2 linked regions of the Homo sapiens genome follow. The protein of the gene in region 1 interacts with the protein of each later gene in a pairwise test. Each region holds a gene or a part of one and is shown in the gene's direction. Other genes may lie near its edges.

What was found.
Region 2: the proteins of MAK (region 1) and SLAMF7 interact in a two-hybrid assay, tested with the Homo sapiens proteins (one large-scale study listed by BioGRID and IntAct).

What each region holds. Positions count from the first base shown.
Region 1 is NC_000006.12:10,796,968-10,802,448, reverse strand, and holds part of MAK (serine/threonine-protein kinase MAK), read left to right. Parts: intron 1-389; coding exon 390-557; intron 558-5,481. UniProt on the Homo sapiens protein: Essential for the regulation of ciliary length and required for the long-term survival of photoreceptors. Phosphorylates FZR1 in a cell cycle-dependent manner. Plays a role in the transcriptional coactivation of AR.
Region 2 is NC_000001.11:160,751,624-160,756,642, forward strand, and holds the end of SLAMF7 (SLAM family member 7 isoform a precursor), read left to right. Parts: intron 1-562; coding exon 563-625; intron 626-1,482; coding exon 1,483-1,554; 3' UTR 1,555-3,198; downstream 3,199-5,019. UniProt on the Homo sapiens protein: Self-ligand receptor of the signaling lymphocytic activation molecule (SLAM) family.

The sequences.
Region 1 (5,481 bases):
CTGTAGTCCCAGCTACTCAGGAGTCTGAGGTAGGAGGATCTTTTGAGCCCGGGAGGGTGAGGCTGTAGTGAGCCATGATTGCTCCACTGCACTCCAACCTGGATAACAGAGCCAGATCCTGTCTCAAAAAAAACACAAAAAAACAAACAAAAAAAAGCTATAAAAGTGCTTTTCGCATTGTTTCCTAACTCTCAGCTTAATGTTCTTTCTATACTGTCGTAGCACTAAATTATAGACGTGGTCTGGTATTTCATTTTCATGTTTATATGGATCAACATGAAAATGTTCAAACATAAATGATGTTTATATTACTGCTGTGTTTTTTAAATGGATTACTAAAAACAATTTGTTTTGCCCTCCCCACCTGCACTTATATATTCCTGAAACAGAGTGACTGGCCAGAAGGATACCAGCTGGCATCCTCTATGAACTTCCGTTTTCCCCAGTGTGTTCCTATAAACTTAAAAACTCTTATTCCCAATGCCAGTAATGAAGCTATTCAGCTCATGACCGAAATGTTGAATTGGGATCCAAAGAAACGACCGACAGCAAGCCAGGTAAGAGGAGTCTTCCTGTTAGACCTTTAAAAATGTTTAGGTTTTGTAATATCAGGGATGTTTTCATTTACAAAGGCAGGTCTATTCTCAACCAGGATTTTACTAAGAGAATTAAACACAAAGTCCTAGGCATCCAGCGTATGTAATAAATTAATTTCTAGGCATATAATATCATTGGGAGAAATGCAGAAATAGCCACACCAATGATTTTCTGAGTTTTGTGGTTCAAATGAAGAACCCTGAGGTTGCAACAAGGAATCAATCTGCAATGATAAAAATTCAGACCTGCGACAGACTAGTTATGAAGGAATCTGTCATGGAAGCAAAAAGGCATCTCATGAATCATTCCACATAGTAGACTTTCCTATGCTGCCTTTACAGTTTAGGGGTGGGATTCTGGTTCACTTTATACAACAGTATCATCCCTTGCTGGGACTGGAGTGTGCAGCCTCTGGCTGCCACAAGAGGGCAGCATTGTGGCACCCAGGCTTTGTTCCTTTGTGACTACACCTGACATATCTACAGATGTATTCCAAGTCTAGGGCCTTTAAACCCAGTGTTTTTGTCTGCAAGGCTTCAATAAAAAGGCAATAATAAACTTTATTGTATTCTCATCATTTAAATATAAATTCCATGTGAAAATTACAAAAATTTATTTTGCTTTTTTTAAAATTAATCTTGAGAAAATGTTTTCTAAATGTCATCTGGAAGAACAAATGGGAAAGGATAGTCAAGATATGTTAAAACAAGAATAAGGAATTAGAGAGCGGTGATAGGGATGGACAGCTTGCCCCATCAGATATTAAAGTAATCTTTAAATTGATGATGGTAACAGTGGAAGTACTGGCATAAGAATTGACAAATAGCTGAATGTTGCAGAACATATGAGTCAGCACAAGGTAAACAAACGTGGCATCACAAAGAGGGGAGGACGGCTCAGTGGGTGATACTGGGAAAATTCATTAGCTCTTAGGGAAAAAAATAAATTGAGGTCCTTACTGCTCACCATACTTTACAACTCACAGAAGGGTTACATTTTGTTGTTGTTGTTGAGATGGAGTTTCACTCTTGTTGCCCAGGCTGGAGTGCAATGGCATGATCTCGGCTCACCGCAACCTCTGCCTCCTGGGTTCAAGTGATTCTCCCACCCTCAGCCTCCCGAGTAGCTGAGATTACAGGCATGAGCCACCACGCCTGGCTAATTTTGTATTTTTAGTAGAGACAGGGTTTCTCCATGTTGGTGAGGCTGGTCTCGACCTCCCAACCTCAGGTGATCTGCCCTCCTTGGCCTCCCAAAGTGCTGGGATTACAGGTGTGAGCCACCGCGCCCGACCAGGATTACATTTTCAAAGTGTAAAAAAAAAAGCACCCTAAACTGTTAGAAACAAAAGGAAAGCATACATGTGTATTTGATCTCAAGGTGAAAAAACACGGGTATAAAAATAATAGAAGAAACCACAAAAGGAAGATTCAAACAATTTGATTACATAAAAAGTAAAATTTTTCTCTATGTAAAAATCTTAAAATGGAAAGATAAGACAGAGAAAATTATTTTTAATTCTTAATATAATACTCCTACAGAAACACAAGAAAAATACTGAAATGTGTATGTGTATTTTCTTTTTTTTTTGAGATGGAGTTTCTGTTGCCCAGGCTGGAGTGTAGTGGCATGATCTCCACTCACTGCAACCTCCGCCTCCTGGGTTCAGGCGATTCTCCTGCCTCAGCCTCCCGAGTTGCTGGGATTGCAGGTGCCCGCCACCACGCTTGGCTTATTTTTGTATTTTTGTAGAGACCAGAGGGGTTTTTTTGTTTAGTTTTTTTTTGTTTTTGTTTTTGTTTTTGAAACGGAGTCTCGCTCCATCGCCCAGGCTGGAGTGCAGTAGCGTGATCTCGGTTCACTACACCCTCCGCCTCCCAGATACAAGCAATTCTTCTGTCTCAGCCTCCCTAGTAGCTGGGACTACAGGTGCCTGCCACCACACCTGGCTAATTTTTGTATTTTTAGTAGAGATGGGGTTTCACCTTGTTGGTCAGGCTGATCTTGAACTCCTGACCTTAGGTGATCCACCCACCTCGGCCTCCCTAAGTTCTGGGATTACAGGAATGTGCCACTGTGCCTGGCCAGAGACGGAGTTTTACCATGTTGGCCAGGCTGCTGTTGATCTCCTGACCTCAGGTGATCTGCCTGCCTTGGCCTCCCAAAGTGCTGGGATTACAGGCATGAACCACTGTGCCCAGCCGTTTAAGTGTATTTTCTAATTTTTCTTTTTTAAAATTTTTTGAAAGTTTTGTTTCTTTAAAGATGGGGTCTTACTATGTTGTCCTGACTGGTCTCAAACCCCTGGTCTCGTGCAGTTCTCCTGCCTTGGCCTCCCAAAGTGCTGAAATAATATAGGCGTGAGCCACCACACCTGGCCCATATTTTCTAATTTTTCTAAACATTCATTACCTTCATAATAAAGACATAATAAGTTTTTCAAATGTATTTTAAAAAGAAAAGTAGTAATGGGACATGAAAAAGAAACACAGGAAAAGAAATACAGATTACAAAAAATATTTTTTAAATGTTCAGTCTTTGTTTACTATTATAAAATGCAAGTAGAAATGAGATACCGTTTTTCATTTATCTCTCTTAGTAAGAGAAAGTAATTTTGTAGTATATAAAAAGAGCCTTGAAGACAATCAGAAATTATGCTCAAAGATGTTCAATTCCAATAGAAAACTGTACATTGAAAGTTAATCAAAATGTTTCCAACCATGTGCGGTGGCTCTGCAGTGCCGCACACCTGTAATCCCAGCACTTTCCGAGGCAGGCGGATCACTTGAGGTCAGGAGTTTGAGATCAGCCTGGCCAACGTGGCAGAACCCCATCTCTACTAAAAATACAAAAAATTAGCTAGGCATGGTGACACACACCTGTAATCTCAGCTACTCGGGAGGCTGAGGCAGAAGGATAGCTTGAACCCAGGAGGCGGAGGTTGCAATGAGCCAAGATCGTGCCACTGCACTCCAGCCTGGGTGACAGAGTGAGACTCTGTCTCAAAAATAAATAAATAAATAAATAAATAAATAAATAAATAAATAAATAATGTTTCTAAACTTAGGTTATGTGCATCTTTAATTTGGAATATACTGCCAGCATTAACAGTGAATTTGTAAAATAAAATTTTTAAATAATTTGGGAGAAATCTCATGCTAAAATACTATTATACAAATAATATGATTTTGTTTTTGAAAAATATATTTTATATGATGAGAAAAAAATACCGAAAAGTATAAAAAATGTTAGTCTTGGTTGTCTCTGGGTGTTAAATTTTTATTTTTGTCTTGAGAACTCTATACGTTTCTCATTCTCTACAATGATCACTGCTTCCCTTAAGTAAATAGGAAAAAATAAATGCTATTAATTTTTAAAGTTTTCCCTCTTCTTGAAGGATAGTAACTGGTATCTTAAAGTATCTTAAAAGGGAAGAGTTGGCCGGGCACAGTGGCTCATACCTGTAATCCTAGCACTTTGAGAGGCCAAGGTGGGCGGATCACGAGGTCAGGAGCTTGAGACCGGCCTGACCAACATGGTGAAACCCTGTCTCTATTAAAAATACAAAAATTAGCTGGGCATGGTGGCGTGTGCCTGTAATCCCAGCTACTCGGGAGGCTGAGGCAGGAGAATTGCTTGAACCCAGGAGGCGGATGCAGTGAGCCAAGATCGTGCCACTGCACTCCAGTCTGGGTGACAGAGCGAGACTCCATCTCAAAAAAAAAAAAAAAAAAAAAGGGAAGAGTTGTTATAAATAAAGCCTTGAAATTACAAAACACATCCTCAAAGTTTCCAGCTCCAAAATATGCATCATTAATTTAGGAATATTGACATACTAATTACTTAATGTGACTTAATTCAGAATTTGAGTACCTTCAGTGTGCTAGGCATTGAAGTATTCAAATTATGTATATTTGTGTATTCCACTGAGAATGCAAGTAACCCTTAACAAACTCTTTCTTGTGCTCTGTTTCACAGCCCTGCTTTTTAGTGGAAGTGGAAAGACCTAATTAGGGAGAGAGGTTGGTTAAGTTGTAGAATATGAAGACCATTTAAAGTACCAAGCTGCCTTCTGTTCCTCTAAAAACTGCCCTTACACATGGGAGGAGTTAACTGTTGGTCAGGGCTATGTTCCCACCTATGTGGGGACTGGCTAAAGGCAGGAGGTTCAGGGGAACAGAGCTTGACCATCTTAAGGAACCCATCCCCCCAAAAATGACCAGCTACTTTGCCCAGGTATTTGATGCCAATAAGGGAATTTTTCCATAGCTGAGCTACACAGGCTTTAGACATTCTGTAGAATATTTTTTCGGTTTTAGCCTTACTGACGTTGTGAACCAGATAACTCTTTGCTGTGGGGTGCTATTGTGTGCATTATGGGATAGTTAGCAATGTCCCTGGCCCTCTAGACACTAGACACTAGTAGCGTCCCCCAACCCCTGTCATTATAATAAGAAATGTCTCCAGACATTGCCAGATATCTCCCAAGGGGCAAACTTGCCTCCATTTGGGAAGCACTGCTATTAGATGGTGCCACCCATACACCAGGGGGTCCTTTCCCTCTCATGCAAGCAGTCAGGTGACTGATCTAGATAAAACTCAAACAGTGATCATTTTTCATAATATTTTTATATTTTCTTCCCATAAATGTCTTCTCTTTGCTGGTATACCGATGAAATAAACTTCAACAGTATGTGTTTGTTGTCCCCTCTTTAGATTTTTTTTTTATTACTAGTAGGTATATTGTTGTACTCAGGCTGAGAGTAACCCGGAATTTTACATACAGCTCTGGTTAATCATTTCAAATAATCTATATGGAAGATTTTCTTAATTCACTTTTTAATGTCTTTGAGTGTACTCTAAACCATTATTGGTGTGTAGTAT
Region 2 (5,019 bases), on another chromosome or scaffold:
GAAGCTGGTGGTCTCTGGAGCACCTGGTTCTGACTCACAATGCTCATGCTGTGGTCTGTGAAATCACCTGCTCCCCTCCACAGTTCATAACGGCCACACAAAAGGCCAGATTCCTTTTGCATAAGGCAGTGGGTAGAAGAGTGTGACTTTGACAGGATGTTTGAATCATGGTATCAGAAGACTTCTCTAGAGATCTCTCTCTCTCTCTCTCTCTCTCTCTCTCTCTCTCTCTCTCTCTCTATATATATATATATATATATATATATATATATATATATACACACACATATATATATAATATTTTTGAAATTCATTTTAACACAGTACAGTTTAAAAATAATGTAATGGCTTCCTGAAAAAAGTTATCAAAATTTATTATAATAGCAGTCACCAACAAGAGAACTTCCTACCTCCCTTCCCTGTTCCAGAACCCTCCTTTTCCTCTCACATCTCCTCCCATCTCTGCTTTCCCCTCTCTGGATTCTGAATGTCTCTCTGGCCTTGTCTATGTGATTCAGGAGGTGGGTGATGATTTCTTTTGTTTGTTGTTTGTTTTTAAAAGAGAACAATCCTAAAGGAAGATCCAGCAAATACGGTTTACTCCACTGTGGAAATACCGAAAAAGGTAAGAAGCTTTAGAGCTTAACTTCATCTTAATGGTTCCATTTCTTTTCCTGCTTCATGTTTAGGTCAAAATTTCTTGGACCCAGGTATCTCATACTCTCTAGAATTAAAAAGTACCCTAGTAGTTCCCCATTCCCTTTGCTTAGGGTTATACAAGAACATGGGGGATGGAAGAGAATTGTGTTTTAGGAATCGAATTGGGTAATCTGGAACAAATAGAGTAGGACAGAGGTTCTAGATCGGAATAATAAAGAAAATCAAAAGCCTTCTGACTGAAGTTGCAGACAAGGAAAAAGACCATGGCTTAGATTGTGCATGGAATGAAGAGAGGAATAGCTGAGAGGAGAGTCCAGCTTTCTCCTGAGACACCAGGAAACTGCAGGAGGGAGAGATCTCTACTTTTCTCCCATGGTCCAGCTATGTTACATCTGCTTTGCACCCTCCCCTCAGTTAAACTACTAATGCAGTAGCTTTAAGGCTTATTCCTTCACAGAGTACGGTTGGCAGCAGTAATGGTATCTTTCTGTCTCCTTTTTCTTCCTCTCCCAAACAGATCCAAAAAGATAAGAATCATTAAAGCAGTTTGCTTAGTAATAGAAAAGGTTGGTTTAGTGAATTATTACAACTGAACAAGGAAAGTTCAGTTCATTAAGCATTCAGCAAGATAAATATGCGTTAAACTTACAGAATAGTTTCTCTAAGCTAGGGGTGATTAAAATCAAACAGTGGGAGCCAGCATGCCAGCCGATTTGGGTTGGGTAACCTTGGAAATAAAGTTTCCTGGATGTCAGGGTCTCCATGGACGATCCAGAGCCCTGCTCACCTCCCTCACTCTACTTTCTTTTTGTCTGTCTTCAGATGGAAAATCCCCACTCACTGCTCACGATGCCAGACACACCAAGGCTATTTGCCTATGAGAATGTTATCTAGACAGCAGTGCACTCCCCTAAGTCTCTGCTCAAAAAAAAAACAATTCTCGGCCCAAAGAAAACAATCAGAAGAATTCACTGATTTGACTAGAAACATCAAGGAAGAATGAAGAACGTTGACTTTTTTCCAGGATAAATTATCTCTGATGCTTCTTTAGATTTAAGAGTTCATAATTCCATCCACTGCTGAGAAATCTCCTCAAACCCAGAAGGTTTAATCACTTCATCCCAAAAATGGGATTGTGAATGTCAGCAAACCATAAAAAAAGTGCTTAGAAGTATTCCTATAAAAATGTAAATGCAAGGTCACACATATTAATGACAGCCTGTTGTATTAATGATGGCTCCAGGTCAGTGTCTGGAGTTTCATTCCATCCCAGGGCTTGGATGTCAGGATTATACCAAGAGTCTTGCTACCAGGAGGGCAAGAAGACCAAAACAGACAGACAAGTCCAGCAGAAGCAGATGCACCTGACAAAAATGGATGTATTAATTGGCTCTATAAACTATGTGCCCAGCACTATGCTGAGCTTACACTAATTGGTCAGACATGCTGTCTGCCCTCATGAAATTGGCTCCAAATGAATGAACTACTTTCATGAGCAGTTGTAGCAGGCCTGACCACAGATTCCCAGAGGGCCAGGTGTGGATCCACAGGACTTGAAGGTCAAAGTTCACAAAGATGAAGAATCAGGGTAGCTGACCATGTTTGGCAGATACTATAATGGAGACACAGAAGTGTGCATGGCCCAAGGACAAGGACCTCCAGCCAGGCTTCATTTATGCACTTGTGCTGCAAAAGAAAAGTCTAGGTTTTAAGGCTGTGCCAGAACCCATCCCAATAAAGAGACCGAGTCTGAAGTCACATTGTAAATCTAGTGTAGGAGACTTGGAGTCAGGCAGTGAGACTGGTGGGGCACGGGGGGCAGTGGGTACTTGTAAACCTTTAAAGATGGTTAATTCATTCAATAGATATTTATTAAGAACCTATGCGGCCCGGCATGGTGGCTCACACCTGTAATCCCAGCACTTTGGGAGGCCAAGGTGGGTGGGTCATCTGAGGTCAGGAGTTCAAGACCAGCCTGGCCAACATGGTGAAACCCCATCTCTACTAAAGATACAAAAATTTGCTGAGCGTGGTGGTGTGCACCTGTAATCCCAGCTACTCGAGAGGCCAAGGCATGAGAATCGCTTGAACCTGGGAGGTGGAGGTTGCAGTGAGCTGAGATGGCACCACTGCACTCCGGCCTAGGCAACGAGAGCAAAACTCCAATACAAACAAACAAACAAACACCTGTGCTAGGTCAGTCTGGCACGTAAGATGAACATCCCTACCAATACAGAGCTCACCATCTCTTATACTTAAGTGAAAAACATGGGGAAGGGGAAAGGGGAATGGCTGCTTTTGATATGTTCCCTGACACATATCTTGAATGGAGACCTCCCTACCAAGTGATGAAAGTGTTGAAAAACTTAATAACAAATGCTTGTTGGGCAAGAATGGGATTGAGGATTATCTTCTCTCAGAAAGGCATTGTGAAGGAATTGAGCCAGATCTCTCTCCCTACTGCAAAACCCTATTGTAGTAAAAAAGTCTTCTTTACTATCTTAATAAAACAGATATTGTGAGATTCACATACAAAAAGATGCATTATTTTGCTATTTGCAATAGTGAAATTCTGGAAACTGCCAAAGAAACTGACCACCACAGGTGAAGGTCTGTTCATACATAGACATTAAGAATTATGGGTTAGGCCGGGAGCAGTGGCTCACGCCTGTAATCCCAGCACTTTGGGAGGCCGAGGCAGGTGGATTACTTGAGGTCAGGAGTTCAAGAACAGCCTGGCCAACATGATGAAACCCCGTCTCTACTAAAAATACAAAAAATATTAGCCGGGCATGGTGGTGAGCCCCTGTAATCCCAGCTTCTTGGGAGGCAGAGGGAGGAGAATTGCTTGAACCCAGGACGGGGAGGTTGCAGTGAGCCAAGATCGCGCCACTGCACTCCAGCCTAGGCGACAGAGCAAGACTCCATCTCAAAAAAAGAATTATGGGTTATACTCAGCATCATGAAATATACCTGTGTAACCTACACATGTAGCTTCTGAATCAAAAATAAAATTAAAAATAACAAATTTTTAGCATGTGCCTGTGGTCCCAGCTACTTGGGAGGCTGAGGCAGGAGGATCTCTTGAACCCGGGAGGTGGAGGTTGCAGTGAGCCGAGATCGCACCACTGCACTCCAGCCTGGATGATAGAGTGAGATTCTGTCTCAAAAAAAAAAAAAAATTGTTTAAAAAAAACTATGGGTTGGCCAGGAGTGGTGGCTCATGTCGGTAATCCCAGCACTTTGGGAGGCTGAAGTAGGAGGATCACTTGACCTCAGGAGTTCAAGACCACCCTAGGCAACTTAGCAAAGCCCCATCTCTACAAAAAAATACAAAAATTAGCCAGGCATGGTGGTGCATGCCTGTAGTCCCAGCTACTCAGGAAGGAGCTGAAGAGGGAGGGTCGCTTGAGCCTGGTAGGTTGAGGCTGCAGTGAGCTATAATTGTGCTACTGCACTCCAGCCTGGGCAACAGAGTGAGACTCTGACTCACAAAACAACAACAACACAACAACTATGGGTTTTCAAGTTAGAAAATGTTATGACATCACAAATATAAAAAGTAGAATGCAAATTTAATGTGCTATATGATTACAGCTGTGTTTTAGAAAAAATCTCTACAGGGAAAAATTTGGAAGAAAAAACATCAAAATAGTAACACCAGTTGTTTAGGGAGGGTGAAAGCTTAGGTGGCTTGGTTTTTTCCTATTTTCATTCATTTTCTGAATATTCCTCAATGAGAAAGTATGTATTGCATAATAGAGTAGAGGAAATTTTAAATAGGTGCTCAGTGAGAAAAACGAGGCACTACTCACTACGTGGGGTTGAGGGGAAAGTCTGAGACCCTCATGGTAAGGGTGTGGGGGAGGATGGAAAGACCTCCTCGAGTGAGAATGGGTGGGGAGAAAGGAGAAACCCTCCACATAATGACAGAGGAGAAGATGACTTTCCCTCAGAGAGGGCTGCTGGAGGCTGAGGGGAGCTTCACAGTGTGTGAAGACAGAGGCGTGGAGAGGGGGATGCTGGGACTGAGGATGCATCTGTTCTGCCTTCCCCTCTCTCCTCAGAACCCATTCAGATGATAAATAATTAGGGTTAATCATACTTTGGGGTTTTTTAAACCAGTGACTGAAACAGGACCTAGGGAGACCAATAGATCTGGTCTCTGGACACTCAATAAATTCTGTCCCAAAGCTAGTTGCAGAAAGAAGCTTCCCCTCATGAGTTCAACCAGTAGGCAAAGGAAACCACCAGCTCTTCAGGGTGAGAAGTCACACCACCTCATAGCCCCATTACATGCAGCCTCCAGAACTGTGTGGTTTGCAACTTGTGAGGTGCAAATAACAAATTCGTAAACAT